Linked DNA regions of Homo sapiens. The protein of the gene in region 3 interacts with the protein of the main gene of each other region in a pairwise test. Each region holds a gene or a part of one and is shown on either strand. Other genes may lie near its edges.

Region 1 (5,871 bases), about 19 Mb from region 3:
AGGCTGGAGTGAAGTGACACAATCTCAGTTCACTGCAACCTCCGCCTCCCGGGCTCAAGTGATTCTCCTGCCTCAGCCTCCTGAGTAGCTGGGATTACAGGCATGAGCCACGATGCCCGGCTAATTTTTGTATTTTTATCAGAGATGGGGTTTCACCTTTTTTGTCCAGGCTGGTCTCGAACTCCTGACCTCAAGCGATCTGCCTGCCTTGGCCTCCCAAGGTAGTTGTTGTCTACTTTTAGAAGCACAATGTGGATTTTTTAATAAGTACAAAAATTCACATTTTGCAGTTACTATGGAAGATAACTAGGATATAGGGCTGGGGGTTATACTCGAGTTGAGCCCTTTAACATTTTTTTCCAACTTTTAAAAATTTGTGTATAATTTACATTAAGTAAGTACATAAATCTTAAGCATACAGCTTGATTAATTTTTTTTACACCTGTTCACCACAACCCAGATGAAGCTAGAGAACAGTTCCCACACGCCACATGCCTCCCTCAGTGTCTTCTGCTTCTCTCACCATAGATTAGTTCTGCCCGTTCGTGAACTTTATGTAAATGGAATCAAACAGTATGTACTTTTTGTGACTGACCTCTTTCATTTACATTATGTCTGTGAGAGTCATCCATATGCCTGTGTTTATTTCTCCATCATTTATTTATTGTTTGTATGTTTGTTGGTTGGTTTTAAGTGCTGGTTCTTGATTTGAGATATGTAAAGCCAGGGTGATGGGACTGAGGTAAAATGAACGTGAGCTAGGGAAGGATGGCAGTGCTGCAGGAAGATACATTCCTATGCGTGCTATGCCCAGAGGTGGGCTGTGAAGAGATACAGGCTCATCACACAACACCTGACCATGTGGGAAAACTGCCTCAGAACAGTTCATGAAAGGAAAGAAGGAGAAGGAATTTATTTGCTGACTTGTGCCTGTCTTTTGATGACCACTCAGTCAGAGTCTGCACTGTGGCAAATCATCCTCTCTTTTTAATAGAAGTAAGAATAAAATAAAGAGCAGAAGTAACCATCCAAGGACACAGAATATGGGCAAAACTTAGGATAGTGGAGTAGAAGGGGACAGAGTTTTCCTATTTGTCTCTCAGGCTTTAGCTTAGAAAGCTACATTTTACCAAGTTGACATGAAGTCCTGAAGGTCCTGGGTGTGTGTTGGGGGAGAACAAAATATATTCCTCCCACTTCTTGTGAACTCCTCTTGAGGAGAGTGGAGAAGAATAGAGTCAACCTGGAGACTTCCAGTAGCTTGAAGGCTGGTGTGAAGTCAGTGAAACATGGCCAGGTGTGGCGGCTCACACCTGTAATCCCAGCACTTTGGGAGGCAGGGAGGATTGCTTGCATCTGGGAGTTCAAGACTAGCCTGGACAACATAGTGAGATGACGTCTTTACAAAAAAAATTAAAAACTAGCTGAGTGTGGTGCTGCATGCCTGTAGTCTTAGCTACTTGGGAGGCTGAGGTGGGAGGATCACTTGAGTCCAGAAAGTCAAGGCTGCAGTGAGCCATGATTGTACCACTGCACTGCAGCCTGGGTGACAGAATGAGATCCAGAAAAGAGACTTGGCCTCTGTTCTGCTTTATCTTTCCTTCTCTCTCTTGCAAGATAAATCGGCTTCCACCTCCCTTGTACTGATCATCCCTTCTTCTTTTCTTTTTCTCAATAATCATTTTCCAAAACATGTAAACATGAAAACTTTTTTTTTTAAAAGAGCATTAGCATACCTAAAAAATAATTCCTTAATATTCCTTAATATCATCAAATATCTTGTCCTTGTCCAAACTTCCATTTTCTCATACATCTTTGTTTTTACTTATTTATTTACTTATGGTTTATTTAAGTCAGGATTCACATAAGGTCAGTTTGTGATTGGTAGATATGTCTCTTTATTTATTTTTTAAGCAATAGTTCCTTTCCCTCTCTTCTTCCCCCTTTTTAACCTTGCAATTTATTTATTAAAGAAACTGGGTCAACTCACTTGAATTTCCCATTGTGGACATTGCTAACTGCATTCCCATGGTGTTATTTGTCATGTTCCTCTGTCCTTTATGTTTTTGTCAATTAGTGTTAGATTTAGAGGTTTGATCCAATTTAGGTTCATTCTATCAATCAATCAATCATGAATCAATCATGTATCTGCCTGCCTATCTATCTATCTATCTATCTACCTATCTATCTATCTAATCTATCTATCGGTTTGATCTAATTTAGGTTCTATCCATCTACTTACCTACCTACCTACTTACCTACCTACCTAGCTATGTATCAAATCTAGCTAGCTAGCCAGAGGTTTGATCCAATTTAGGTTCAATCTATCCATCTCTTCACCTACCTACCTATCTACCTACCTACCTAATCATGTATCTTTCTTGGTAGTAGAAGGAATAATAAATCATATAGAATATTGTGTTCTTTTATCAGGGGCACATGATACCTGGTTGTCACTCTTCCTGTGATGTGACATCCATTGATGATCGTTGCCTAGATCTGTTACTTCACTAAACGGCACAAAATGATGATATTCTAATTAAATCACTTCTTTTTGAGTTATTAGCTGGAACATTCTATTAGGAAAAGTTTTCCCTCATCAATTGTTTTGTTACGCAGAGGAACAGTTAATGTAGCAAGGGCAGGATAAATGCTTGATTTTTGACCTTTATTTAAGAGGTTTTAAAATAATAAGCTGGTCTCTGTCATCCTCCAAAGGGTGACAGATGAGTTCTTTTTGGTGTGCCTTGAAATATTTAATGTGCTTTAATCCATTCCAATTAGTAGCTTTATCAATAGCCCATCTTTGGCTAGTGGAGGCCTCTTTAAGTTGAATCTCAGACCCTTTCACGTGATGCTGTCTTTGTTAGGATGCTTGCTTTATGACATGACTAGGGTTCTAGGTCCATCCCTTACACTTCCTGCCCCATACTTGGAACCGGTCATATGTATAATAAGCTTCAGAGATGTGATACTTAGAGATCATGAAGATCTGGGTGCTGTGACATATATTTATTGAACTTCAACAATGTGCTTGTGTTTGCATTCTGTTTTTCCCACTAAAATTATACTTGGGCTAATCTGTTGCTATAGGAATTTGACTAGACAGTTGAAGGGGTGACTGTGAAAGATCAGATGTCTTCCTTTTGAGTCCTGTTCAAGTTTGCTTGAACATTTGATGGGGTCCAGCTCTATTTTAAAACTTTTCCCCCCCATTTCAGCCTTTTGCTTTATTGTCGGTGTTTTCTACATTGAAATGGAAGCTTCTTTGTTTTCATTCTTTCTTTTCCTTTTTCCCCTTCGGTAGTTAACGTCCTACCTAGTGACTTTGCCTTTAGGCAAGACCTCAGGCTGTCACTGGGAGAGGAGGTTGGAAGCTCAGTTGTCAGAGTGGAGTGCTGCTGGTGGTGTATCATGTTGGTCATGGTGCCTGTGGCTAGGCCTTTCTGTTGGAAATGGATGCATGGCACCTAGGACCAAAACTTCTGCATGACTGTGGAACGCATCATCAGCCTCTGTGGCAACAGAAACTTAATGGTTAGGCTGAAAAGCAAAAGCAGAGAAAGATCCTCAGGGAAAGTACAATCCCTGGGTCAGATGGAAGATTCTATTCTAATTTAAGAGCTTTGAAAATGAAAAAATAAAATCTGAGCAGTTTATAATTTCCCTATTTTGCTTTTTTCCCTCCTCTTTCTTTCAGATGCAGTTCGAACATTAAGCAATGCCGAGGACTATCTCGATGATGAAGACTCAGATTAATTCCTTTCTGGAGCTTTGAGATCTAAAACTTCTGTTGCTTTTGCCATTCCAAAACTTTGTCTTTGCCAGAAAAGTGTTGGTAACTATAAAGAAAATTATATATGAACACGGCAGTGTTGCACTGTGTTTGAGTAGAACGTGTAAATGAATTGTTCCCACCTTTGGTTTGCCAGTAAGTGACTGGATTCTTGGCACATTTATGTTCACCAAAGTAGAACAAGAAGATATTATTTCTATTTATCAAGCAAAAGGAATTTTAAGATTTTTTTTTTTCTTTAAAAACAAATTAGGATTTTTTTTTTTTTTTTTTTTTTAGTTAAAATGCTTTACCTCAATGGTTGAGATATTTTGAATGGATTTTTCAAGGGGGGGAAATGCTTATTATAATAATAAACCAAAATACTTAACAGAAAATTGTCAGCTATTCTGACAAAAATAAACATTTTGAGAGACTTTATTTCTTTTGTCCGTTTCTGTGGTATCACTCATTGTCGTTAAGTAAGTAAAGCTTTTTATATTTAGGTAAGAACTGATTTTATTTTTTAAATTATATTTTATATTTATTAGCACAGAAGAATAATGAGAGCCACATTTTAGTTCAACTTCTTGTGTTAGCTTTGATCAAAGTCAGGACAATAATCATTGAGAAGGTGCATGTCTAATAAAATAGGTAAATTTAATAATTGTGAGACTTCCAGTTTTTATCTCCAAGGTTGTATTTAGAGTGGAGAAACCCAACAACTCATTACAGTTTCGCTAAGATTTGAAAGGTTAAAAAAATTTATTTCCTTATGATAGATGCCATACTTTTCCATATGGAGTAGTCAGGAACCATGAAATTTTTTGCATTCAGTTTTTTTAATAACATTTGTTTTCTCACAGTATGGATCTAGTTCATAATGATTCAGATTCTTTTGCTGAAACACAATTAGCATTGCAGGGAGCCTTCTGTACTACTGACATGACACTTCATTTGGCGTTCTAATTTTGTATCACTACAGTGATGATGTAAAAATGACATGGCCATTGGAATTTGCCTAGAATCCCGGCCCTAGGTCCAAAAGTATATTTTGCAAGATGATTTCAATGCTAATTTCAAAAAACACGTTGATGAAGAGAAGGAAATGTATGAAGAAGGAAGTGGGTTAGCTCAGGAAATGAATAACTGCCTCTATAAGAGTTTATTCTGTGACTGTTTGGTTTTTCACTCTGTGGGAGCCTTGAGAAACGATACCCAGAGAAGCCCATTTGAGGTCTTTCAAACACCCTCAACTAAATTTTAGTAGAAGAGAATCTGTACCACTAGTGACAACAAAGTATGAACACAAATTCTGGCACCAACAAAAGAGGGCATTTTATTCTTAAAATAAATACGTTATTAAATTTGATTTAACCAGTTGTATTTCTTCTTAAACATAAACTTGAAGATATGAAATTCTTCCTGAAATTGTATCTATTCCTATAGATCCTTTAAGATTTTTCTTTAAAATGGGGCTTGTTTCTTAACAAAAAGCTTTTAGAGAACCCTGTAACTTTTTGTTCTTCTATACTTTGGGCTGGGGTAATTAGGATGGATTTCAACTAAAGACTCTTAATTTTTAAAACATGGGCAGAAATAATACAGCTTGTGTGGCTATAGACAATTTTTATCAAAATACCATGTACTTGCTTTAGATATATTATTTGTATATCTGAGGGAAAGAATAGTGGAGGTCTCACTATCATTGTTTTTAACATTATCAAACTTAAGAGAATTTTAGAAAGTTGGACAACTATAGTTTTTTTTTGAAGATGAGGAGAGTGCTTAGCTATGTGCATGAATTTTTGGTAAAACAGGACAACTCATTTAGTTGTGGCTGAAACTCCACTGGAAATTTTTTTGGTTTGTTTCTTGTTTATTCAGCCTGGCTAATCTGAGCTTTCTCAGAGATTGTTTAGTGCTGAACTCAGCAACAAAAATCAGTTCTAGGAATTTGCCACTGCTCTGACTGTGCAGAGGAGAGCTCTGATTATGTTTTGGAAATAACTTCAGAGGTTTTGCTGTAATCTGAGCTTGCTGACAGTCACTGTGGCCTGAACTCCTTTCTAGTGATTGCACCCTTTAAATAGGAA
Region 2 (5,871 bases), on a different chromosome or scaffold from region 3:
ATCACGAGGTCAGGAGGTCGAGACCAGCCTGACCAACATGGTGAAACCCCGTCTCTACTAAAAATACAAAAATAAGCCAGGCATGGTGGCGCGCGCCTGTAATCCCAGCTACTCGGGAGGCTGAGGCAGGAAAGTTGCTTGAACCTGGGAGGTAGAGGTTGCAGTCAGCCATGATCAAGCCACTGCACTCCAGCCTAGGCAACAGAGCGAGACTCCATCTCAAAAAAAAAAAAAAAAAAAAAAAAAAGGGAAACTTCCAGCATCTCCTTGGGATGTTTGAACAGGAATCTCAGTAAACACACCCAAAATTGAACTCCTGATCTCCTCTACCTGCCTCAAACTTGTTTTCCCCCAGTCTCTGCCATCACAGCCAGCAACACAGATCAGAACCCCCCATCCTCAGTCCTTCCTCCAGGCCATCACCACATCTTGCTATTTCTGCTGGCCACTGCCGGCCTCAGACTCAGACCATAACAGAGGCAGGTAGATACACAGAAGACATCCCATGCAGGCCACTGGCTCTCTCCACCAACACCAACACCCCCAAAAATCAACCCCTGGACAGGCGCAGTGGCTCACACCTGTAATGTCAACATTTTGGGAGGCCAAGATGGATGGATTATTTGAGCCCAGAAATTCAAGACCGGCCTGGGCAAAAGAGTGAGACCCTGTCTCTACAAAAAAATCAAAGAATTAGCTGAGTATGATTGTGTGCCTGTAGTCCCAGCTTCTTGGGAGGCTGAGGCAGGAGGATCACTTGAGCCCAAGACTTTAAGACTGCAGTGAGCCATGATTGCACCACTGCACTCCAGCCTGGGTCAGGGTTGTCTTTTAAGAAGTCGTCTTTAATGGCTTTCTCTTAGGCCTGGAGTAACAAAATGCAAACTCTTTTCCATGGTCTTTAGTGACCCACATGCTCTGAGTCTCAGTAATCCCCATAACCCTACCTTGTGCCCATCTCCTCCTTGCTGGGCACTTTGCACTGTTGCAAGGTCGGCCTTCTTTAAGTCCCTCAACATGCCAAGCGTTCCCAGCCTTAGGACCTTCATGAACGCTACTCCATCTAGCGAAGATGGACATCTCCCTGCCCATCAAACACCTTCAGCCCCACCTCCCTGGAGGAGCCTTCTCTGATGACCTCACCTATGGGATTCCCACCTACTATTGTGTAGTACCTGTGGGTTCCTGGTTCCTTCAGAACACTAAATCTCATCTCCACCCAACAAAGAAAGTCCCAGAGGGCGGAGAATCTTTATTCACCACTGGGTACTTCGTATCCAGTGTCCAGCACACAGTAGCTGCTCAAACAGCAGTTAAGTCTGTATCTAGGCCAAACACGGTGTCTCACGCCTGTAATCCCAACACTTCGGGAGGCCGAGGCCGCGGATCACTTGAGATCAGGAGTTTGAGTCCAGCCTGGCCAACACGGTGAAACCCTGTCTCTACCAAAAATACAAAAATTTGCCAGGCCTCATAGCTCATGCCTGTAATCCAGCTACTCGGGAGGCTGAGGCAGGAGAATCGCTTAAACCAGGGAGGCGGAGTTTGCAGTGAGCCAAGATCACACCATTGCACTCCAGCCTGGGCGATAGAGTGAGACTCAGTATGAAAAAAAAAAAAAAAAAAAAAAAAACTCTGGGCCGGGCACAGTGGCTCACACCTGTAATCCCAGCACTTTGGGAGGTCAAGGCGGGCGGATCACGAGGTCAGGAGTTCGAGACCAGCCTGGCCAACATGGTGAAACCCGTTTCTACTAAAAATACAAAAATTAGCCAGGCATGGTGGCAGGCGCCTGTAATCCCAGCTAGCCAGGAGGCTGAGGCAGGAGAATGGCTTGAGCCTGGGAGGTGGAGGTTGCAGTGAGCCGAGATCATGCCATGGCACTCCAGCCTGGGCGATAACAGCAAGACTCCATCTCAAAAAAAAACAAAAAGTCTGTATCTGGGCAAGAAAAATAAGTCCTTTCAATGTGTCTAGTTTATAAACCCATTTAATTCATATTTACTGGTTCTATATTTTAGTAAATAATTACCACCAGCTCCCTCTATATAGTATATTACCAAAGACAAGTCTAATTTAACATTTATATGCTATTCATTTTTTCTTTTCTTTAAAAAATTTTTTTTAATAGAGAAGGGTTTTCGCCATGTTGCCCAGGCTGCTTTTTAACTCCTGGGCTCAAGCAATCCACCCACCTCAGTCTCCCAAAGTGCTGGGATTACAGGCGTGAGCCACTGCACCCGGCCCCCCTATTCATTTCTAATGTCCCATTCAGTGCATATGATAAGAAATAAGATGATTTGCAGAAAGAACTATGAACATTAGCTCTTTGTTTATTAGGCATAATTTGTCTGTGTATTTTTTGAACTCCTCAACAAATTGTGATGATGTCTTCCAAATCAATTTAGAAGGAAACAAACAAAAAAAAAAAACCCAAAATCCAAATAATTCTAAATCAGCCACAAACCATGACTGACAATAGTCAGAAATAACTAAATCCAGGCTCTTCATCTACCCTCAGCAGACTTTATGTACTATTGCCTTTTTTTTACTGCAAAGAACCTTCCTGGAGTCTGTACTACCTTCAAGATGGTTTTAGGGTCCCCAAGCCTAGTAGCCACAGGATTCTAACAGCAACTGAGGAAGCCTTTTTCAGTGAATTATGGATCTAAACAAGGCAAATGAACGCAGAGAGGGAACTGTGCCTCCAAAGGCCACGAAAAGCAATTTTGCCAAACCTAGGTAATTGTCCAAAGGAGAGAACGAAGCCAGGGCTAGCAAACAAACATGACAGATCAGAGAATTGTTTTGCCACTTTGTAAAGGCAAGATCAAGTATTTGTACAAAGGTTCTGGGGAAAAATTAAAGACTCAAACAATGACTCTAGCACTTCCGTTTCATGCCAGGTCAAGACAAAAATACCTAATTGAGCTCTGCAGCTGAGAACAATCTAAATGGAATCCTGTAGCAGCAATTGGCACTTGTGGAAACCTCAAAGGTGAAAAGAGATAGTTAAGAAAATTTGTCTTGACAGTTACTTTCAGAAAATCATTAATTATAATTAAATGACAGTAGAAAAGGTGATAAACAATATAGTAACATAAGTCAGTCAAGTGTAATTATCTGTAGGGCATGCGATTCACAAAATGGTTCAAACAGAGGGCTACACATTTAGATGTAAATCACAAAAAGATTGCCAAAGAGGAGGCTTTGATTTGGAAACAGGGAAGCTCTGAAATGGGGAAGTGCTGAAACGATTGCGACATCCCCACATTTGGCCCTGCCTTGCACGTTACTTAGTCATCAGCCTCCATCAAGGACTTGTGGTGGCAGAGAAAATAAACCACAGAAAACATGGCAGCCTCCTGGGAGAGGTCTGGGAGAAAACCCATGCTCATTCAGAAAGGTATGTTCGTGGTTGTATTTCGAGTAAAACGCATTCAGTCACGCTTGAAATGTGTAAAAGCCTGTGTGTCTTATTCATTTATTCAACAAGTATTTATGGAGCACCTACTCTGTGGCAGACGCTCCTCTAATGTGCTTGGGATACACCAATGAATGAAGTAGACATTCTAGTCAGGGAGAGACAGATAATAGGTCACACAATTACATAGTATGCTACAAAGCGATAAATACCAGAGAGAAAGCAGGGTAGTGAGACAGAGGATGCGGGCAGGAAGGAGGAATTGCTGTTTTAACCTGGAGGAGGCAGAGCAAAGACTTGAAGGAGGTGAAGGAGTGAAGCATGGAGATGTCTGGGGATGATGGTTCAGGCATCGGGGCAGCCAGTGCAAAGGCCCTGTGGTATGAATGTGCTGGGCACACCCCATCAAGAAAAGGAGTGTGGTTAAAGCAGAGGAAGTAAGGATGTGTGTGGTAGCAGGCGAGGTTAAAGAGGTGATGGGACTAGAAATAAAGTCATTCACTGGCTTTTGAGTGAGATAGAGAAGCTCTAGAAAGTTTTCGGCAGGGGACTGACACGAGCTGACTTCTGTTTTAAAAAAGTCACTCTGGCCAGGTGAGGTAGCTCACACCTGCAATCCCAGCACTTTAGGAGGCCAAGGTAGGCAGCTCGCTTGAGGCCAGGAGTTCGAGACCAGCCTGGCCAACATGGTGAAACTCCATCTCTACTAAAAACACAAAAATTAGCCAGGCATGGTGGTGCATGTCTGTAATCCTAGCTACTCAGGAGGCTGAGGCAGGAGAATCACTGGAGCCTGGAAGGCAGAGGTTGCAGTGAGCTGAGATCGTGCCACTGCACTCCAGCCTGGGTGACAGAGTGAGACTCCATCTCAAAAAATAAAAGAGTCACTCTGGATACTGGGTTAAGAAAGGAGTGTGCGGGGAGAGCGGTGAGGACAAAGGTGGAAGCAGGGGAGCAGATAAGCAGATTCTGCAGACGTATCCACCCTTCCGTGACTAGCTCTAGCCAATGGAGAAAGGGCAAGACCTTTCATACATGACCAGGGTGTATGAGAACATGGGTGTTACCATTTAATTTCAGGGTCTGTGTGCCTCCTGCAGTTCCCACCGGAGAAGTGACTCCTAGGTTTCAGGCTGGGCTTGTCCGTATCATATGAGCTGGCAGTTTCTGTTTACTCATTGGCAAACTGACATATACCTTGAGGTAGATGCTGGAGCCCACAATGTGGAGCAAAAAGCAAAGGAGGTCCCTGGGCCAAACTACTGTTTGCACCAAATGGGAAGGGCTAACTTGTTATTGGATTTCTCTTTGCTCTGCAAATAGGATTTCACTAGAGGCAATTCTTCTAATACTTCTTCAGCCACCTGTCCTTCCTCATCTCTTTTCTTAGTAACTAAGAGTACACTGTCAGCCCACCAGAAAAGCCACACTGCTGTGATTCATTGATATTCACCTGATACTGCCCTTTCACTCTTGGATTTCTTGGTTGACCCTCCGTATTTTTTAGAGGTGAGATCTCACTATGTTACCCAGGCTGGAGTGCAGTGGCTAGTCACAGGCGCAATCATAACGTACTAAAGCCTTGAGCGCCTGTCATCCAGCGACGCTCCTGCCTCAGCCTCCCAAGTAGCTGGGACCACAGGCATGAACCACCACGCTCAGCTCTTCACTCTCCCTAATTTTGAGAAAACATACTTTTTTCCTTCTAGTAATGACCTAATAAGTTTTTTCTAATTACGAAAAAATGCACTTTTTTCCTCCTCATCATTGCTTATTGGCAACTCTCAGCCTTTTAAAGGATATTAAATAGCAGACAAAGAGGTATAAACTTGTTTGTTTGTTTGTTTGTTTGTTTGTTTTTTAGATGGAGTCTTGCCCTGTCAAGGCTGGAGTGCAGTGACGCAATCTCGGCTCACTGCTACCTCCGCCTCCCGATCTCAAGGGATCCTCCCACCTCAGCCTCCCTGGTAGCTGGGATTACAGGCGTGTACCACCACGCCTGGCTAATTTTTGTATTTTTTGTAGAGATGGGGTTTTGCCATGTTGCCTAGATTGTTCTCAAACTCCTGGGCTCAAGTGATCTGCATGCCTTGGTCTCCAAAAGTGCTGGGATTACGGTGTGAGTGACCAAGCCTGGCCCAGATTAATTTATTTAATCCTTATAATAACCCTGTGAGGTAGGCATTTTACAGTTGGGGAAACTGAGTCACAGAGTTTTCTTTTTTAGTTAGCCTGCCTAAAGTCACATGTAAGTGGCAGAACTAAGATTGGAACCAAGGCAGCCCATGCTCCTAGCCACTCTGCTATGGAGTGTGAATTTAGTATGAATAGCCATCCTTTCCCTAAAATCTGCATCTTTACTCTAGATAAACCCCTTTTTTTCTCACCACATGACCAAACGTTGCTGATTACCCTGATAACAAACTAGCCCACAGTGCTGAGCTCTC
Region 3 (5,871 bases):
CTGTCATTCACTCTCACCCCGCCACACGGGCCCTGCCCCCAGGACCCCAGACTCACTTTTCCGCCATCTCGTAGAAGATCATCCGGTCAAAGTTGCTCGTGTGCTGCCATTCCCGCATGGCCTGCCACAGTCCCTCCTCCAGCGTCATGGTGGGCTTCCGCCGGGCCAGGGATCGGAGAACTGGGCTGTAAACCAGTGCAGTCAGTCCCAGTCTGTAAGCCCACCCTCCATCCCGGGCCCACCTGGTCCCAACACCTGGCTCCTGTCCTCCCCACACCTGTCCTGCCATCTGTCCCTGTCCTGTTCTCCCCCATGTGGGCTCCTCAGCCTCCAGGACACACCCCCAAGATCCAACATCAATAGAAGCCACTGAGTGGCCTCTCCGACTGCCTCTCAAGTCCTCGGTGTTATGATGTTGACAAGCGAACTCAGTGCTATGGGTGGAACATGTGTGTCCCCAACATTCCTGTGCTGAAGCCCTCAGTGTCAGTGTGTCAGTATTTGGAGGCAATCAGGGTTAGAGCAGGTCATGAGCGTGGGTCCCAGTCATGGAATCCGAGCTCTGATAAGGGCAGGAGGAGACACCAGGGCTCTTGCTCTCAGCCACAAGAGCACACAGCCAGAGGCAGCTCTCTCCAGCCAGGAAGAGGGCCCTGACCAGACACCCAATCCGCTGTCACCTTGATCTGGGACTTCTGGCCTCTGGAACTAGGAGACATGAATGTGTCTTGATAAAGCACCCAGTCTATGGGATTCGTTACGGCAGAGCCTGAGCTGACTGAGACACCATGCACACAGAATGACCTGGGAGCGAGGGTTAAAGTGCAGGTTCCTGGGCCACAGGACTGAGCATTTAACCAGCTTCCTGGGGACTCTGGAGCAAGGCAGCCCCTGGGGACACAGCCTCAGGGTCCTGGAGCTTGAGGAGCAGGAGCACACGTCCAGAACCAAAGCAGAGCGGTGTCCAAGCCACTGCAAGCAGCCAGGCACAGCTTCCCACATTCCCACAGGAGCCAAGGCAAAGGCCTGTGAGCCCGGGGCGGCTACACTCCAAGAATCAGGGTCCCCAGTGCACCGGGACTCCGCTCCAAGGGGGGATGCAACCAGTTCCAGGGTGTGGGGGCAGCGAGACTGTTGGGGAGGAAGACGGGGCCGCCTTCACCTACACCCCAGGCAGGGGACTCCCCTAGGGGAATGGCCAGTGTGTTGCACGGTGGATATGCTCAAGCTCCTGTTTGCTCATCAGCGGGAAACACAGGGTCACAGAGGTGCCGCGGGGTGGAGAGAGGCAGGGACTGGGAATGAAACCACAAACTCTCCCAGATGCTGATGTTGCTGCCTCACAGTCACCACAGTCCACGGCTCTGGGCTGCTGGGCTCGTGGTGCACTCAGAGCTATCACTGGAGCCCGTGGCTTTGGGGAGCACTCTCCTAGATGGCCTAGTCCTGATAATGGTAGTAATGGGGACAGTAATCATAACTGCTGTCATGTAATGTGTCATAGTATGTGCCAGGCACTGTGCTACGTATGTCATATGTGAGCTCAGGTCATCTCTTTGCCATCCTCTGAATGAAACACCATTGTCCTTTTTTCTAGGGGGGATTGACGGTGAAGATGCTAATACCTGCCCAGCATCGACCCTAGTGCGGGTCCCAAGACCATCCCCCTGTGCAGGCTCCACCACCGCTGTGCTAACTGGACCGCGGCAGAACAGTGTGGGTGTGTGCCAGGTTCCTGCTGGGCCCTGCAGCTCCTCCCCCCAGCCCCATGTGATGTGCCCCTGGCCATTGACACTCAGTTCGAGGGAAGGCACTGGGGTGTACACTCAAAGACCTAAACCCAGGGTGGGTGCGGTGGCTCACGCCTGCAATCCTAGCACTTTGGGAGGCTGAGGCGGGTGGATCACAAAGTCAGGAGTTCAAGACCAGCCTGCTCAACATAGTGAAACCCCGTCTCTACTAAAAAATACAAAAAATTAGCTGGGCATGGTGGCGGGCGCCTGTAAGCCCAGGTACTTGGGAGGCTGAGGCAGGAGAATCGCTTGAACCTAGGAGGCAGAGGTTGCGGTGAGCCAAGATCTCACCATTGCACTCCAGCCTGGGTGACAGTGCGAGACTCCATCTCAAACAAACAAACAAAAAAGACCTAAACCCTAACCGTGGCTCATGTCACACCAAGAACGCTCTCTGACCTGGGTCTTCTGTAAACATTGTTGTGAAAATTATTGAAAGTGAAAGCCAGGCACGGTGGCTCATGCCTGCAATCGCAGCACTTTGGGAGGCCGAGGCGGGCGAATCACCAGGGCAGGAGATTGAGAGCATCCTGGCTAACATGGTGAAACCCCGTCTCTACTAAAAATACAAAAAAATTAGCCGGGCATGGTGGTGGGCACCTGTAGTCCCAGCTACTCGGGAGCCTGAGGCAGGAGAATGACGTGAACCTGGGAGGTAGAGCTTGCAGTGAGCCAAGATCGCGCCACTGCACTCCAGCCTGGGCGACAGAGTGAGACTCCATCTCAAAAAAAAAAAAAAAAGAAAAGAAAAGAAAAGAAAGTAAGTATTGGGGCGGGGCATGATGGCTCATGCCTGTAATCTCAGCACTTTGAGAGGCTGAGGCGGGCAGATCACCTGAGGTCGGGAGTTCAAGACCAGCCTGACCAACATGGAGAAACCCCATCTCTACGAATACAAAATTGGCCAGGCATGGTGGCACATGCCTGTAATCCCAACTACTCAGGAAGCTGAGGCAGCAGAATCACTTGAACCCGGGAGGCGGAGGTTGTGATGAGCTGAGATCGCGCCATTGCACTCCAGCCTGGGCAACAAGAGTGAAAGTCCATCTCAAAAAAAAAAAAAAAATTAAGGATTGGCTGGACTCACGGGACAGTGACAGGCAGTTGACGTGAGGCCCCTGACAGTCTGTCCTGAGCCGCAGCCAGATTAATGTTGCTGAAAACGTACCTTCCCATAGCACAACCCATCACCCTCACAACCGCCCTGCAAGCTCCCCTGAACAGTGTGACCTCCTGTCCATCCAGCAGCCTCTTTATGAGTGAGCTGCAGGACAAGCTCCGGCGCCCCGAGGACACTCACATGAGGAAGCAGGAAAGCGCTTCAGTGTCAGGACTCTGGGGAAGGTGCCTCCGGGCCAGGGGCTTGTAGTGCTGCCAGAGTCGGAAGTTCTCATAGACACTCTTGGGTTTACAGGAGTCGTCCGGCCGGGCCTTGGCCTGGGAGGGAGCCAGGCTGCCCTCTCCATGAGCCCCTTGTGGCCATGGCCTAGCGTTCCCTGGGGACACGATGGGGGCCACCTGGGCAGCCGGTGGTGGTGGTGGAAGAGGAAGGCCATGGGACCAGCCTCCCTCACAGGCCTGGGTGCCCCCAACCACCTGGGCAGAGGTAACGGGCACCCCAGGAGCAGCTGCCAGGAGTAGGGGAGGTGGACACATGACACCTCCACAGAGGGTGCCTGGAGCCTGCCAGACGAGGGGGGCCTGAGTTAGGATCAAGGTCTGTGCCTGAGGGGGCTTCACAGGCCCCACTTCTGTCCTCATCTGGACAAAGACGTTGGAAGCCCCGGCCCCACTCGGGCCGCGGCCATCCTGTCCTGCCACTAGAGGGGTGCTGGGGAAGGCAGAGAGCACCAGAGGGCCGGCTGGAGGAACCACTGCAGTCACGAGGGGCGGCCTGTGTGCTGGGCCGGGAGCGGGTGTGGCAAAGGGCAGAGCCGTGAACACAGACAGGGAGGTGCCAGGGTTCACGGTCACGCCGGGTCCCAGCACTGGGTATGCTGTGGAGACAAAGGAAAGAGGTGAATGAGCTGGCGTCTCCAGGTCCACACTAGTCACTGGGGAATCAGGGGAGTCCCAACAGCTGAGGGCATGTGACAGGGAAACTCTGCAGCTTGCAAGTGTCCCTGAGTGTGCATCAGATGCTCTGTTCCTCCACGGCAGAGTCGCTCCACTAGAGAGCCTGGCGCCAGTCACCAAGACTCCCTGACCCTTGTCTGCCAAGAAGAAACAGCCAAGCCTTTGCTGTCTCTGAGGGTCTCCCTCGGGTGTCCCTGGCAGACTGCACCAGCCTCACAGGCATCTCCCAAGCCATGGGTCAGGGATGAGTCTCTCGGTGGCTTGGTGGCTCTCAGTGTGCTCAGCAGCAGGTGAGGGGCCTACCCCAGGGCAGTGCTCGGCATTCAGAAGGCCGACAGGAAACCAGAAGTTTCCGAATATTATGGCCCCATCTCCTCTTCAGTCTTCCTTTCCCTGAAGCTCTTGTAAACCCCTTTCTTTCCTAGCTCAACACAACAAAAGAAAACCACTGGATAGGCCGGGCGTGCTGGTTCATGCCTGTCATCCCAGCGCTTTGGGAGGCCCAGGCGGGTGGATCACCTGAGGTCAGGAGTTGAAGACCAGTCTGGCCAACGTGGTGAAACCCCGTCTCTACTAAAATACAAAAATTAGCTGATGGTGCGTGCCTGTAATCCCAGCTACTCAGGAGGCTGAGACAGGAGAATTGCTTGAACCGAGGAGGCAGAGGCTGCAGTGAGCCGAGATCGTGCCACTTCATTCCAGCCCGGGTGACAGAGCGAGACTCCGTCTCAAAAAAAAAAAAAAAAAAAAAAAAGAAAACCACTGGATGGAAACTCACCCAAGCCAGTGCCCTAGGAACCCTGAAGATAACCCATAACACATCACGCCCAGCATGCAAGTGATTGTCCTGGCACCACCCACACAAGTGTTAAATAGGGGTCAGATTCAGGCCACCCATTCCTCAGTGCTCAGTGGTCCCAGCTGCCACTCAGGAAGCTCAGTTCCCAGGGAGCAGATCTGAGAAGCAGTGGTGGAGTCCCCTGAGATATTGTCATTGTGTAGCCAGCAACAGCTGCACATGACTAGAACACAGCCAGCAAATGGTGAGCAGCAGGGCTATCAGGGGAGGTGTCTAGGGATTTTCTTTTTTTTCTTTTTTTTTTTTTTTGAGACGGAGTCTCGCTCTGTCACCCAGGCTGGAGTGCAGTGGTGCGATCTCAGCTCACTGCAACCTCTGCCTCCCAGGTTCAAGCACTTCTCCTGCCTCAGCCTCCTGAGTAGCTGGGATTACAGGCGCCCGCCACCATGCCCAGCCAATTTTTGTATTTTTAGTAGAGACGGGGTTTCACCATATTGGTCAGGCTGGTCTTGAACTCCTGACCTCGTGATCCACATGCCTTGGTCTCCCAAAGTGCTGGGATTACAGGCGTGAGCCACCGCGCCCGGCCAGGGATTTTCACAGCTGCTAGTCATGTTACACTAAATAGTGGGACAGGGAGCCCATCTCTGGTCCTTCTCCTTTGAGCTCCCAGTAACTGAACATAGGGACCAACGAAGAACCAGGGGTTCTTGGGCCACAGGCCAGGTGAGGCAGAGTTGTCTGGAACTCATCCCTGTTCACTAGGACCTCATGCAGTCTCTAGCCAAGGGGAATAAGGGATACAGCACATGCACCTCATCAGTCAGGACACACATCCTAGTTTGAATAATAATAATAATAGGACTGTCTTCCTATTTGTGCGCTACTCTCCTTCCTCTACTGAAAAGGAAACCAGCCTTTTCAGAGCCTTCCACTGAGAACCAGCAAGAATCCACACCTGTCGCCCGTTCATGAGGTAGTATAAATGGAACAGGAGCAAATTCTTCACCTCCACAGTAACACAAAGTACAGAGGACGGGCCATGAGCTAGCTGACGAGAGGAAGTGGGTCTGAAGACCTGAGCTTCCACCAAAGGGCAAACAATTCAGAACAACTCAGGAAACCCAGGCCCTGTGTTGCCTGAACTTCCCCATTCTGCCCCCACCCCTGTTAAATCAAAGCCAACAGCTACCTGAACTGACG
Region 4 (5,470 bases), on a different chromosome or scaffold from region 3:
CAGAGAGGGAGCGAGTGCACTGAAGAGACCTTGGTCAGTAGTGGCTTTGGGGTAGAGAAGAGAACACTGTTTATTTTTACACCTCCTGAATTGGTCAATTCTGAGTACAAACTCATCTTAACAGGAAATCGCAATGAAATATACACACCATGCACAGTCTATATTACTGTGGGAATCCAGTAATACATGCAAGACGTGGGGAAAGAATCACAATGGATGAATATGAACTTTTCACAGTGTTTCTTATAGCCTTTGACTTAACACGAGTGCATCACTTACCACCACTATCTCACAAATGTTTTACTTGTGTCCTGGGCATGCAGGTCAGTTGGGGTAAAATGTGAAATGACGCTTCATAGCCATTCTCAGACAGTGACTACAACTTCAATTTCCCCTACTTTCCAACCAAACAATTGAGCTGCTTCTGCTATAAAACTAAATATATTTCTAAATACATTTTGTTCAAGGGTTGTGCTGTATTCTTTCTCATTGTTTCAGTCACTTCATTCTAGGAAAATTAAAAACCCACACAATTAAATTGAGGACTAGGTCTTCAGGGTGATTCCTACCAAACTAGAAAGAGAGGGAATCACTAACTTCTCTTCTCTCAAGTTTCTGTCTCTCTACCCCAGGCCCTAATTGATACTGATTCATTTGTATGTTTGGTTTCCCAAAGAAGAAAACCAAATTAGAGAACTGGGATTTCTATCTTAAAGAAGCAAAACATAACCCCAAAATATAATGGTAGCAGGGAGGAGGAGAGGGGAAAATGCATTCACTCTATGTCAAAACGAATCTCTTGCTCTCAACAGGAGATAATCCAGCTTCTCCTTACCTATCATTTCATAAATTAATAATTTCTTAAAATCATAATCCAAAGAACGTATCTATTATACGAAAAGTTCAAGTTTAAAAAAGCAAATAAATTAGTTAAGCCTTGTAAACAATTGTCCATTTTAGTCATATATCTTAAAAAAAAAAAAAAGTTTCTCTGTGTAGTAAATCAGACAGTACAAGGCACACCTTATACATCCGAATCCAGACTAACAAAACCCACACAAACATCTTCTTCATTCTGCTCGCTGGGGTAACTGTGCTGGGGCATCAGAGTCACATACCAATCCTTTGCTCATCTCCTGACCATCTGGAAGTCCACAAATGTGCTCTTTCTGTTAAACTGCTTTGTGCTACTTTGTTGTGTGAAGTGATTTTAAGCTTCTTCAGTGTCAGTCTCCTCATATGTTTTCCACAAAGCTTCCTGGGAAAAGGCCAGTTTTCCCATTACGTTGTAATGTGCCTTTGAACCAGCCATCCTCTCGTTTTTTATGAACAAACACAATATCTCCTTCTTTAAGTTCAAGTTCTGCCTCACTCTGAGGAGGATAGGAAACCACCACCCTGTGCCTAGAAAAGAAAGAGATTTTGGTTAAGGCGATTCAAAGCAGTGATTTTAAAAAATGGTGTACTGTTAGTCTGCACGAACCTTCAACATAAATAGGAAATAACATTAATTCATTTATGATTGTAAAACAACTCAAAATACTGCTATTTTCTGTTTAGTAGAGACTTAGTACTAACAAAGACTGGATTTGGATATGTGTGTCAACCCACTACTGATGGCCCAGACTGGTTCATCTGAGTGACCTTAACAAGGACAGCCATCCTTGTTCCCTACCAGTGTTTGTATCTTGGCCATAAAGGAGAGTTTCATTTCATTTCCCGAGAGGGGTATCATTTCTATCCCTCCCTCTTCTCCAAGGAAACAGGAGTGAATTTATTTGATTGGTGAGACTGGGAGAAGTAGCTGAGCAGGGGGGGTTCAGTCCTCTCTGAACCGCCTGCCCACAGGCTAAGGAGGCTCTGCTCCACCTCTATGTTGTAAGCACACAGAGGTCAGGAAGGTGAGTCTGGAAGTCTGTCTCTGTGTCCCTACGTCCCTTACACTGGTGTTTGACATGGGCGAGGCAGCAATTCTGAGGAAGGTAATCTGCCCCACATACCCAGATTATCCCTTGGGAAGGTAGTCCCAAGGTCCAGACATGGAGGGGAGGGCTATGGCCACAAGTTCAATCCAACATTACCAGTAACGAGGTTGACATTCTCATCTCTATTATTCTGACATTTGGGTCTGTTTCTCCTTGGCTCAGAATTTGGAGTTAGTGGGAAAGGTGTCATTATCGCTTAAAAATGGCAGAAGCTTAGTTGGTTTAATATTATCTGTGCCCCTGCCTCCATGCTCCTTAGCCTTCCTGTGCAGAATTACAGCTTGTAGGAAACGAGAGGGAGGTGACTTGTTTTACACTCTATATCCTTTTATCTTTCTCTATTTTTCCAGCATTATTTGCATTACTCCTCTTCTCAACAAAAGGGGGGAAAAGAATGGTGGTGTATGGTAGCCAACCTCCAAGATGGCCCTAGTGATCCTTGCTTCCTGGTATTCACACTCTTGTGTAGTCTCCTCCTATGATGCACAGGATGACCTGTGTGGCCAATAAAATGTTGCAGAAATGACAGTGGGTGATTTCTGAGGCTAGATCATAAAAGGCATTATGGCTTCCACTTTACTTTCTCTTGGATCGGTCACTCAGGAAAACTGGCTGCCATGTTGTGAGGACACTCAACATCTCTATGGAGAGGAAACACATGGTAAGGCACTGAGGCCTCTTTCCAAAAGCCTAAACTAACCAGAAAAAGTGATGTGAATAAGCCATCTTAGAAGGGGATCCTCCAGCCCCAGTTGAGCATCAGCTCAGGCTGATGTCTTGACTACAATCTCAAGAAATACTCTAAGCCAGAACCAACCAGATGAGCTGTTCCATAATTATGTGACCCACAGAAAGTGTGAAATAATACATGCTTATTATTGTTTTAAGCCACTGACTTTTGGGCGTAACTGGTTACATGGCAACAGATATCTAATAAATACATCTTTCACTGTTTGATGCTAAGTAATGAGTAGTCAGTCATAAAGTTGATTTTGGGTTTCTACTTTCATTTGGTTCTCAAAGTCAGAAAATGAGTGTATAGCCTCGTGGGACCCACTCCTGACTGAAAGTGAAAAATATTATGGCTTCAAAATGATAGGCAGAACAAATTCTATACAACTGTCCCCAAACTTCTGAAACCTATTACAGCCTGCCCCTTTCACCAATTCCCATTCCATATAAACCAAAATCCATTTAAGAAAGACCACAGCAAGAGTCCCAGACTATTACACTAAAAAAACACATCTCTGCAAAAGGTAAGTGGCTGCTTGAACAACCTGAGCTCCTTTGGCACAGGGACCAAATTACTACCCAAGATCTGAAGCAAAAGCACAGCACAGAAGTTGGCTTATCATATCTGAGAAAGGTTCAGCTAATTCAAACATGAATATTCATAGACCACAAGGCTGGGGTTTGATCAAGCATGGAATGAGGAAGGAAGCATGACACAGCGGGAGAAACACTGGCCTAAGGATTGACACAGTCTTTAAGGTCAGTTAGAGCAGCTTAACTTTGGGCCAGTTATCTCAGCTCTCAGTCTGTTTCCTCATCTGTAGAATAGGACTGTAATGAGTTAAACAAGTATGATGCTCTTCGTATGGTGTCTGACAAAGAGTTCAACCTGAAAATATTAGCTCCCATTATGATCATATGGCTTAGACAAGAGTAGGCAGAGGCCTGGCACTTCAAGGAGGTGAAGAATGGGCCAGTCAGTGGCTGGACATCTCTAACTAGGAAACGAACTCAGGCCACAACTCAGGCCTCATTTCCTGAAAATGAGATTTGACAAACTTTAGATCAACACAGTTAGGGTTTTGGAATCCCTTCTTTGATATCTTTATTTTGAGACGGTCTTACTTTGTTGCCCAGGCTGGTGTGCAGTGATGCAATCACAGCTCACTGTAGCCTTGACCTCCCAGGCTTAACTGATCTTCCTACCTCAGCCTTCCGGCTGGGACTACAGGTGTGTGCCACCAAACCTGGTTAATCTTTTTACTTTTTGTAGGGATGGCATCTCACTATATTGCCCAGGCTGGTCTTGAACTCCTTGGCTCAAGCAATCTTCCAGCCTCAGCCCCAGAAAGTGCTGGGATTATAGACATAAGCCGCTATGCCCAGCTCTCTGACACCTTTAAAAGCAAGACAAATAATTTCATCATGAATTTATCTGAAAGAAGGATCCAGATGACATTTCTCAAGTCTAATGTCAACATGCTAAAAATCCATGAAAAAGCAATGATGTAGTTGCCATGTGGGGCAAGTTAAACATTTAAGGCAAAGCTTTATAATTCTGGGAAAAAATGTACAAGTGACTCAAAACATATTCAGAGTAGACTTCTCATGAGATATATTCCCTACTTGTTCTCTGTGAGCTGCCTTAAAGGTGAAATGGAATAAAAATGGTTATTGAAAAACTTGAAGTGAATTAGATTAATATATGCATTTTATAAAATGCACTAAACCAATTTTGTCAAAAAAAAATTTTGAACTAGAACTGCTGCTGGGCTAAGAACATACTCTTCCTGCCAAGTTCCCAGTGGGAGCAAATTTTCATTGCTAAGTTTTATAAACCTCTGGGGGGGCGGGTGGAATGAGAAACTATGTGCATAATGGAAACTGTGACACAGTCTTGATCGTATGAAGACTACCAGGTGCAGGAGTAATAGACTCTACTTAGAAATCTTCCAGCTCAGGTCCTGATCTTGAGCCTTGTGAGGTGGTTTGCAGTTTTCTAATACAGATTTGTAAGGCCAAATACTGGGCATAACTGGCCAACTATTTCAGGCATTGAAAGGCTTTGCCAAGTAGAACATTTACAGACCAACAAACAGATGTAAGGCACAGCTGCAGAGGCCCTTTACATCTGCTGCTCCACCCTCTGCCTCACTCGGATTATGCTTTTCTTTATATGAACAGGGGTTTGGGGAAGTTCTGAACCTCAGGGGTCAATGAATACTCTCCCATGACCTACATGGGACCTGCTGATCTACCTTCAAAATCTGCATCCCATCCACTCCTCTTCATTGTCACTGTCACTATCCTGGTTGATGACTTCATTACCTTCCACCTCGTCAAATATCTTTTTTTTTTAAGACTGAGTTTCGCTCTTGTCACCCAGGCTAGAGTGCAATGGCACGATCTCAGCTCACCACAAACTCCGCCTCCTGGGTTCAAGCAATTTTCCTGCCTCAGCCTCCTGAGTAGCTGGGATTACAGGTGTGTGCCATCATGCCCGACTAATTTTTGTATTTTCAATAGAGACAGGGTTTCAATATATTGGCCAGGCTGGTCTCTAACTCCTGACCTGGTGATCCACCCACCTTGGCCTCCTTCAAGTCTCTTCCTGTCCCCAACCCAGTCTATGCAGAGCTCACATACTAATATTCTTAAGTGGCAACTCTATTTGCAGCTACCCACTGCCAAAAAATCATTAACAGCTTTACAATGCCTGTGAGCAAGGTTAATCCTCAGCCTGGTATGCGAAG
Region 5 (6,023 bases), on a different chromosome or scaffold from region 3:
TGGGAACACTTTGCCCTCTGCATCCCTACCATAGCACGGCTTCGGGCTGGTAGCTAGTTGTTTATGTCTAAAACTTAACCTCTGCAATCCAAGCAAGTTCCTGAAAGGAGAGCACTTTCTTTCACAGCTCTAGATCCCCCAGGCTGCCTGGGAGGCAGATGTTCGGTTCATGTCTATGGGTGGACAAGCCCAGACCAAGAGGCAGAAGAGATGCCACTGCAGCAGTAACTAGAATGTGGCCCTGGCTTGGTGTTCACAGAACGATGTTCCTAAGGAGGGGAAGGTGAATCCTGGGGCCCTTGCGCCTCACAGCACAGCTGTAACTAACTGTTTGTTAGAGAGTGCGAGACAGAAAGCCAAACAGCCAAGCTGTCGTCATCTCAGCCAAACGGTGTAGGATGCGAATCACTGATCCTGAGCCTGCGTCTCGCCTGTGCCCACGCCTCTGCCAGAAAACCATCAAGACGCTTTCCAATTCAAAGACTCAGAAGAATTAAGGCTGCGTTCATGTCGCTTCTCATTTATTAATTCAGTCTGTTCTAAGTTGTGTACAGTTATGAAAATAACAAAACCAAAGCTGGAAGCCCAGAAATATTTACACTCTCTTGGGTACTGAGGTCAGTCTATGTTGTTGCACAGATTGGTTATGTTTGGTACCTCAAAGTGTTTATAATTCAGACAAAATCAGACAGATTAACAATTTTATATACAGTAAAACAAAAGGGAAAGTCATTCAAGTATCAAAATACAGAGACAAAGATTAAATAACATTTTCATTACAGTTCAGTCCATTGCCACACCATGAGCAACAATACTTCTGAGCTGCTTTCTGCTGGCCTGGGCATCTCAAAGACAGACCCAATTCAGACTGGTTTTCTAATGTCTCTGACTGCAGCTCTGCCTGCTCCCTGCTCAAACCCGAGCATCTCGGGAACTCCCATTAGTGTCTGACGCTGGAGGGCCCAGGAGGGACGCAGAGAGCTGCACACGCAGAGCCTGTCGGGAAGGTCTTATGCGCTGAGCAGCTGGTGGGCAGGGGAGAAGAGGTGGACAAGAAGCCTGTGGCTGGGACAGGTACTGAGCCCATCTGAAGTCTCCCACCCGAATGGGCTCCTTCACAGTTCAGAAACGCAGCGACAGGGTCTGCCCCTGGTGTGACCTGCACTTGGAGAAGTGCAAAAGTAGGGGCCTTCCCACTTGAAGCCTGTCCTTAAAGTTATAATAACCTTTCTAGGAAAGGGAGACTACCCATCCCAGAGGAGAAGAAAAGAAAGAAAGGCCCAGTCATTTTCCTTTCTTGAATATTCAGAAATAAACCAATCTCTAAACAGAACCCAGAGCTAGAGCAGACTAGCCAAGGCTTCCAATATGAAAATACCCTGAATAAATAAAGATGATATAGCAGCTTCAAGCAGAAGAAACACCTATGGATGATCTAAGCACAAAAGACAGCTTGAGGAGTGCATCGTAGTGTCTGCGGTTTCTTTCGGACCTACCGCCCCGCCCCCGACAGAGGCCCACTTGGATGTGGCCTGGCCCCTTAGGAGGAAGACGGGCACCAGCATGTGCGCAGTGGCAGCGCAGTCTACTCTGGATGCTTTAGGGTTCCTGGTCAACTCTTGGAAGAAAGCCGGGGCCGAGAACTGTACAGCGGTAGCTCATGGGCATCCTCACAGGCCCTGAAAGGGGCAGGAAATGAAGTAAAACTGCAAGGTGTCGAGATCTTCGTTTAGTACCAAGAAGTGGAGGAGGGCCTGCCTCTACCGCAGAGAGAGCTGAGTCCCAGGCCCCAACCTGCTGGGTGCTTAGCAGATAGAAACCCACAAGGCCTGGCCTCTAGCCAGTCAGAGACACAGCCCCACTTCTGATTTCTGGCCAACCACATGGGTTAAGAATGTGCCTAACAGTACTCCCTGCACATACATACCAACAAAGAATTCAAATTCACAGCCTTTGCTGGCTGGGAAAGAGGAGTGTTGCTGAAGCCTGGATTATTCATCCTGGGACCTGATTGACCTATGCCAGGAAAGCTCGGAGCCTGCTAAAGTGCCCACAGGAGGAACTGGGCACACAGCTGAGCCAACTTTGCCTCTCAAATCCACAGCAGTTTCCCCTGCATTTCTACTCTAGTCCAGAGGGAAGAATGCAACCCAAGTTACTTTTAAAAACAAAGCGAGCAGCAGGAAAGCTTAAGAAGCAGAGGCGCACCGGGATGCCAGCCTGCCCCAAAGGCCACGCGGGGGAGCATCGATGCACTGTCACCTTATTTAGCCTTTTCCACACCGGGGGCCAGGGATGGGCCCAGCAGCCAAGTGTAACCGTCAAACCGATAATTCAGAGAATCAAAATGAGCCCCAATCACACAGGCTGATTAGACAAATCACAAATTGGCAAGTAGCAACCTTAGCTGACCCCACTCCAAGCATTAATGCCCCAAACAAAGCTGCTTTTCCTATTCTCTGACACAACGCAGGCAGTACGGCGCCGGCCAGCCCAGGGCAGTGCTCCGATCACTGACAGGTAAGAGGCCAGGGAGAGGCCTGGCGCTCTGGTGCTGGCTAAGACTTCCCAGCACTAGAAACTGCACACTTATCTTCATTTGGCCACTGAACCTTCCCATCGGGAACCCCAGAAATGGACCGGAAACCTTTGAGTTGCTCAGGTGCCTCTAAGGCTGTGTTCTTACGAGAAGCCTGTGTCTAGCCCCTGAAAGGGACAGGAAGTTGGGCAGTTCATAAAGAGCAGCAGCTGATATGGTTGGGTTTGAAAAGCAGACGCACCGTACTCAATTCTGCCTGAGCCTGCTCCGTTCCCCTCACCCACAGGCCACCGCCTTCTCTTCCGACCCACTGAGCTGCACCCAAGTTCCGTCCTGAGGACAGAGGCTATGCAGGCTGGCCTCTGAACCAACCTCAGCTCCCCTGTCCTCTGCCCCATGGCCATTTGTCTAAAGATTGGCAGTATGACCTAGAGGTTTGAGCCAAGTGTTAAAAGTTCATTTTATAAAAAGATTTTTTTTCTGTTAAAAACAATGTGTTCTGAACAAGTCACTTCTTGACCCTCTGGAATGCCAGTCCCATCTGCTAGCGGCCTGGAGTGCTTCTCCACAGCCAAGGCAGGGCTCGTTCTGCAGGACGTGGTGGTGGCAGGCCCAGGCCAAGTGGCCAAGAGGAGGTCCTGCAGGCGGAGGTGAGGCCTGGGTCTTCAGAGCTGCAGGTGAGGCGATGGCGGTGGTGGCAGTGGGAGCCTATGCCCCCACGTCTATGTTTCCGCAGCACAGTGTGGTTCCTCAGTGGCTCAGCTTGGCAGAAGCAAACAATGGGGGGAGGAAAGGGTTAACCAATGGGGCCTGCGGACGGTGGAGGAAATGGAAAGGAAACACAGAGCAGGACAGACGATCCCTCACAGCCTCCCCGGGGCACCCTCCATGCCTGCTTTGAGCACCCACAGCCTGCAGCCCCCACTGCCTCTGGCTCAGTGACTCTGCTCAGGAAGGCACAAGGATGGGTGGGTACGCAGGACCCACCCAGTTTATCGACTTGGGTTTTGACTGCCCTGGCCGACTGGCTTTCCTAGTGGACTCTGCTATGTGTGCACGGCTGCCTATGGGCGCCGCTTCCTTCCTGTCTCCTGCCATCCAAACTGATTTGCCCACACTGGAGAATGGGGTGCCTCTTCAAAGACTCAGCTCCACCATCCCAGCTTCTGAGCTGCTGCGATGGGACGGCCTCTCCTTTCGGAGGAGTCAGGAGGCTGAGGGAGGTGGTCAGGGGCATGCTGGACGGCGCTGTCTATCTGTGATCCCCCACCGTGGAGAGTGTCAGAAAGCTCCCAGAGGACAATGGAGGCCACTTGGTCCAGGTCCCTGTCCTCCAGCAGCTCTGTTCTGTGAGGGAAGAAGGTGCGCCGTGTGTGCAGGGCACAGGCCGCCTCCTCGTTGGTTCTACGGAAGGCCTTCCTCCTCAGTGAGCTAGACTCCAGAGCCAGGCCCAAGGCTGCCAGGCCTTGAGACTCCATGGCGAAGATAGAGGGGCTGTCCACACACATGCCACCCACCTCCTTGGAGGGGAAGGCCCATCAGGACTGAGACACCTGCTGTGTGAGCCAGCCTGTGAGTGTTCAGATACCCAGAGCCCCAAGTGGGGCAGTCAGCACGGACCCAAGGGCCTGGCGCATATCTTGGGCCCTCACAGAAAGCAGTCTGTCCCTGGTCCAGCCACATCACTGAGCTCAAGGTCTCACAAGGGCCTAGCCATGAGAGTGAGGCCAGCACCTCGGAGTAGCGGAGGACAGTGGGGTGGGGCTGCAGGCCGGCTGTGAGCAGAGTGCTGGGGACTCTGGCACTGGGTGGTCACAGTGGTTGGTTGGTTCAGGAGAGGTGAGAACAGTCAGCTAGCTCTTGGCAACGGTGCCCAGCTGTGGCTCAGTACAGCAGACAGGAGGAGGGAGCCACACAGAGCCCAGCCCAACCCTGGGGAGCTATCAGTGCCGTTGGGATCCTGCTGGAGACTGCCCTGCCCGTCGGGGTTCACAGTGCCTGCCCGTGGAGGCTTCCAGGGTGCAACAGAACCCCTGAGCCCTCTTGATGCCCACCTCAAAGGCAACTCACCCCCTCAAGCTGTCCTCAGCCCAAGGGGGAGAATTCACAGTGTTCGGTGGTGGTAGGTGCGAGAGCTGCAAGTGTACAGCGTCTACGCTGCCGCCCGCCCAAGAGGAGCAGGTCCCAGTGCAGGTGGGGCCTTGGCATCAGCAGCTGGAAGGAGAGAGTTGAGGACAGCAGAAAGATCGGATGGCAAAGGCACAGTGAGACTAGTGGAGACAGGGAGTGGGTTGTTTTAGAAGATAGTGGTCTCATACTTGGTGCTGAGGCTCCGCTTAGAGTCTGGTTTGGGGTCCACAACCCAGGAGACACTGGCATGGGATTGGGCATCTTGGTCCATATCAGGTGGTTCCAGCTGCCAAACAAGGAAGCAGTCAAGAGTCAGAGGGAGCTCTGTGCCAGGGCTGGAGGCAGCAGGCCCCTCCCACCCCCAGGCCAGGCTGTGGCCCCTGTGCTGGGAGGGGCAGCCCTTATTCTCCTCGGCCAAAGAGCAGGCCCCTGGGGGCAGGCGGAGGAGGGACACCCTCCTGGAGCATCTTGGGGAGGGCCACCTCCAGGCACAGCTTCTCTCCGGGATTTCTTGGGATTGCTCAGTTAAAGGACCCCTGTCCTAGGCGGGCCTCCTGCTCTAAGCCCCAGACCCACTCACACTGGGCAGGAAGGGGATATGGGGCTTGCAAATGTCCAGCCTCGGGTCTCTCTGGTAGGCCCAGAGAGCTCACCCCAAGGCAAGACCACAGCAGTCACCCCAGACCTCTGGAGAGAGGACACACAACAGAAAAACAGAGAGGGCTGAAGCACACACAGAACAGGCAGAGGGCATCTCAGGAAGAGGGGAAAGAATGTCACACAGGCAGAGGGAGAGGCCGCCAGAGGCTAAGAGCGCTCACGGTCACTTCGGGGAGACTGACACACAAGACAGCAGGAGGCGTAAAGACCTTGACTCCAGGACTAACAGATGGCAGCGGTAGGTAGGAAGGACGGTGGGTGGTGCAGGTGTGACAGTAACAACAGCGACTATCGGGGGGCAGCGGCACCTGGGGTGCAGAGCAAAGCAGACACAGACACAGGGATGGCGCAGTTACTGGGGGCTGCCTGCAGGCCGCTCTCTGCAGCCCCTTGACGGCCTTGCCCTTGGGGGAGCCCAGCGAGGGAGGGAAACAGGAGCATGAGAGGCCCGCCCAGGCCAGAGGAGCTGCTGCCTTTCCAGGGGCGAGACCTGGCAGGGTTGGGGGACAATTAAGAGGGTCATTTCCCTGGAGGGCCAGCTTTCTGGAAGTGCCAGAAGACCCTCCTCACGCTGACCACCCTGAGCCCTTGAATCCCTGGGGCCAGGGAGAGGGGGATCTTGGCCAGTGGGGCCCACGTACTGCGGATTTCCTCACGCCGACCCGAGGCTTAGGCACCGGTTTGGAAGATTTTG

The links.
Region 1: the proteins of NUTM2F (region 3) and OSTF1 interact in a two-hybrid assay, tested with the Homo sapiens proteins (one large-scale study listed by BioGRID).
Region 2: the proteins of NUTM2F (region 3) and RBM47 interact in a two-hybrid assay, tested with the Homo sapiens proteins (one large-scale study listed by BioGRID).
Region 4: the proteins of NUTM2F (region 3) and SH3RF1 interact in a two-hybrid assay, tested with the Homo sapiens proteins (one large-scale study listed by BioGRID).
Region 5: the proteins of NUTM2F (region 3) and ANKS1A interact in a two-hybrid assay, tested with the Homo sapiens proteins (one large-scale study listed by BioGRID).

What each region holds. Positions count from the first base shown.
Region 1 is NC_000009.12:75,142,983-75,148,853, forward strand, and holds the end of OSTF1 (osteoclast-stimulating factor 1), read left to right. Parts: intron 1-3,700; coding exon 3,701-3,759; 3' UTR 3,760-4,283; downstream 4,284-5,871.
Region 2 is NC_000004.12:40,618,588-40,624,458, forward strand, and holds part of RBM47 (RNA-binding protein 47), read right to left. Parts: intron 1-5,871. UniProt on the Homo sapiens protein: Single-stranded RNA-binding protein that functions in a variety of RNA processes, including alternative splicing, RNA stabilization, and RNA editing. Functions as an enzyme-substrate adapter for the cytidine deaminase APOBEC1.
Region 3 is NC_000009.12:94,322,145-94,328,015, forward strand, and holds part of NUTM2F (NUT family member 2F), read right to left. Parts: intron 3,791-5,871; coding exon 3,094-3,790; intron 1,859-3,093; exon of another isoform or gene 1,598-1,858; intron 186-1,597; coding exon 57-185; intron 1-56.
Region 4 is NC_000004.12:169,095,284-169,100,753, forward strand, and holds part of SH3RF1 (E3 ubiquitin-protein ligase SH3RF1), read right to left. Parts: intron 1,405-5,470; coding exon 1,236-1,404; 3' UTR 1-1,235. UniProt on the Homo sapiens protein: Has E3 ubiquitin-protein ligase activity. In the absence of an external substrate, it can catalyze self-ubiquitination. Stimulates ubiquitination of potassium channel KCNJ1, enhancing it's dynamin-dependent and clathrin-independent endocytosis.
Region 5 is NC_000006.12:35,085,884-35,091,906, reverse strand, and holds the end of ANKS1A (ankyrin repeat and SAM domain-containing protein 1A), read right to left. Parts: coding exon 5,971-6,023; intron 4,956-5,970; coding exon 4,858-4,955; coding exon of another isoform or gene 4,836-4,857; exon of another isoform or gene 3,308-4,835; intron 3,302-3,307; coding exon 3,298-3,301; 3' UTR 501-3,297; downstream 1-500. UniProt on the Homo sapiens protein: Regulator of different signaling pathways. Regulates EPHA8 receptor tyrosine kinase signaling to control cell migration and neurite retraction.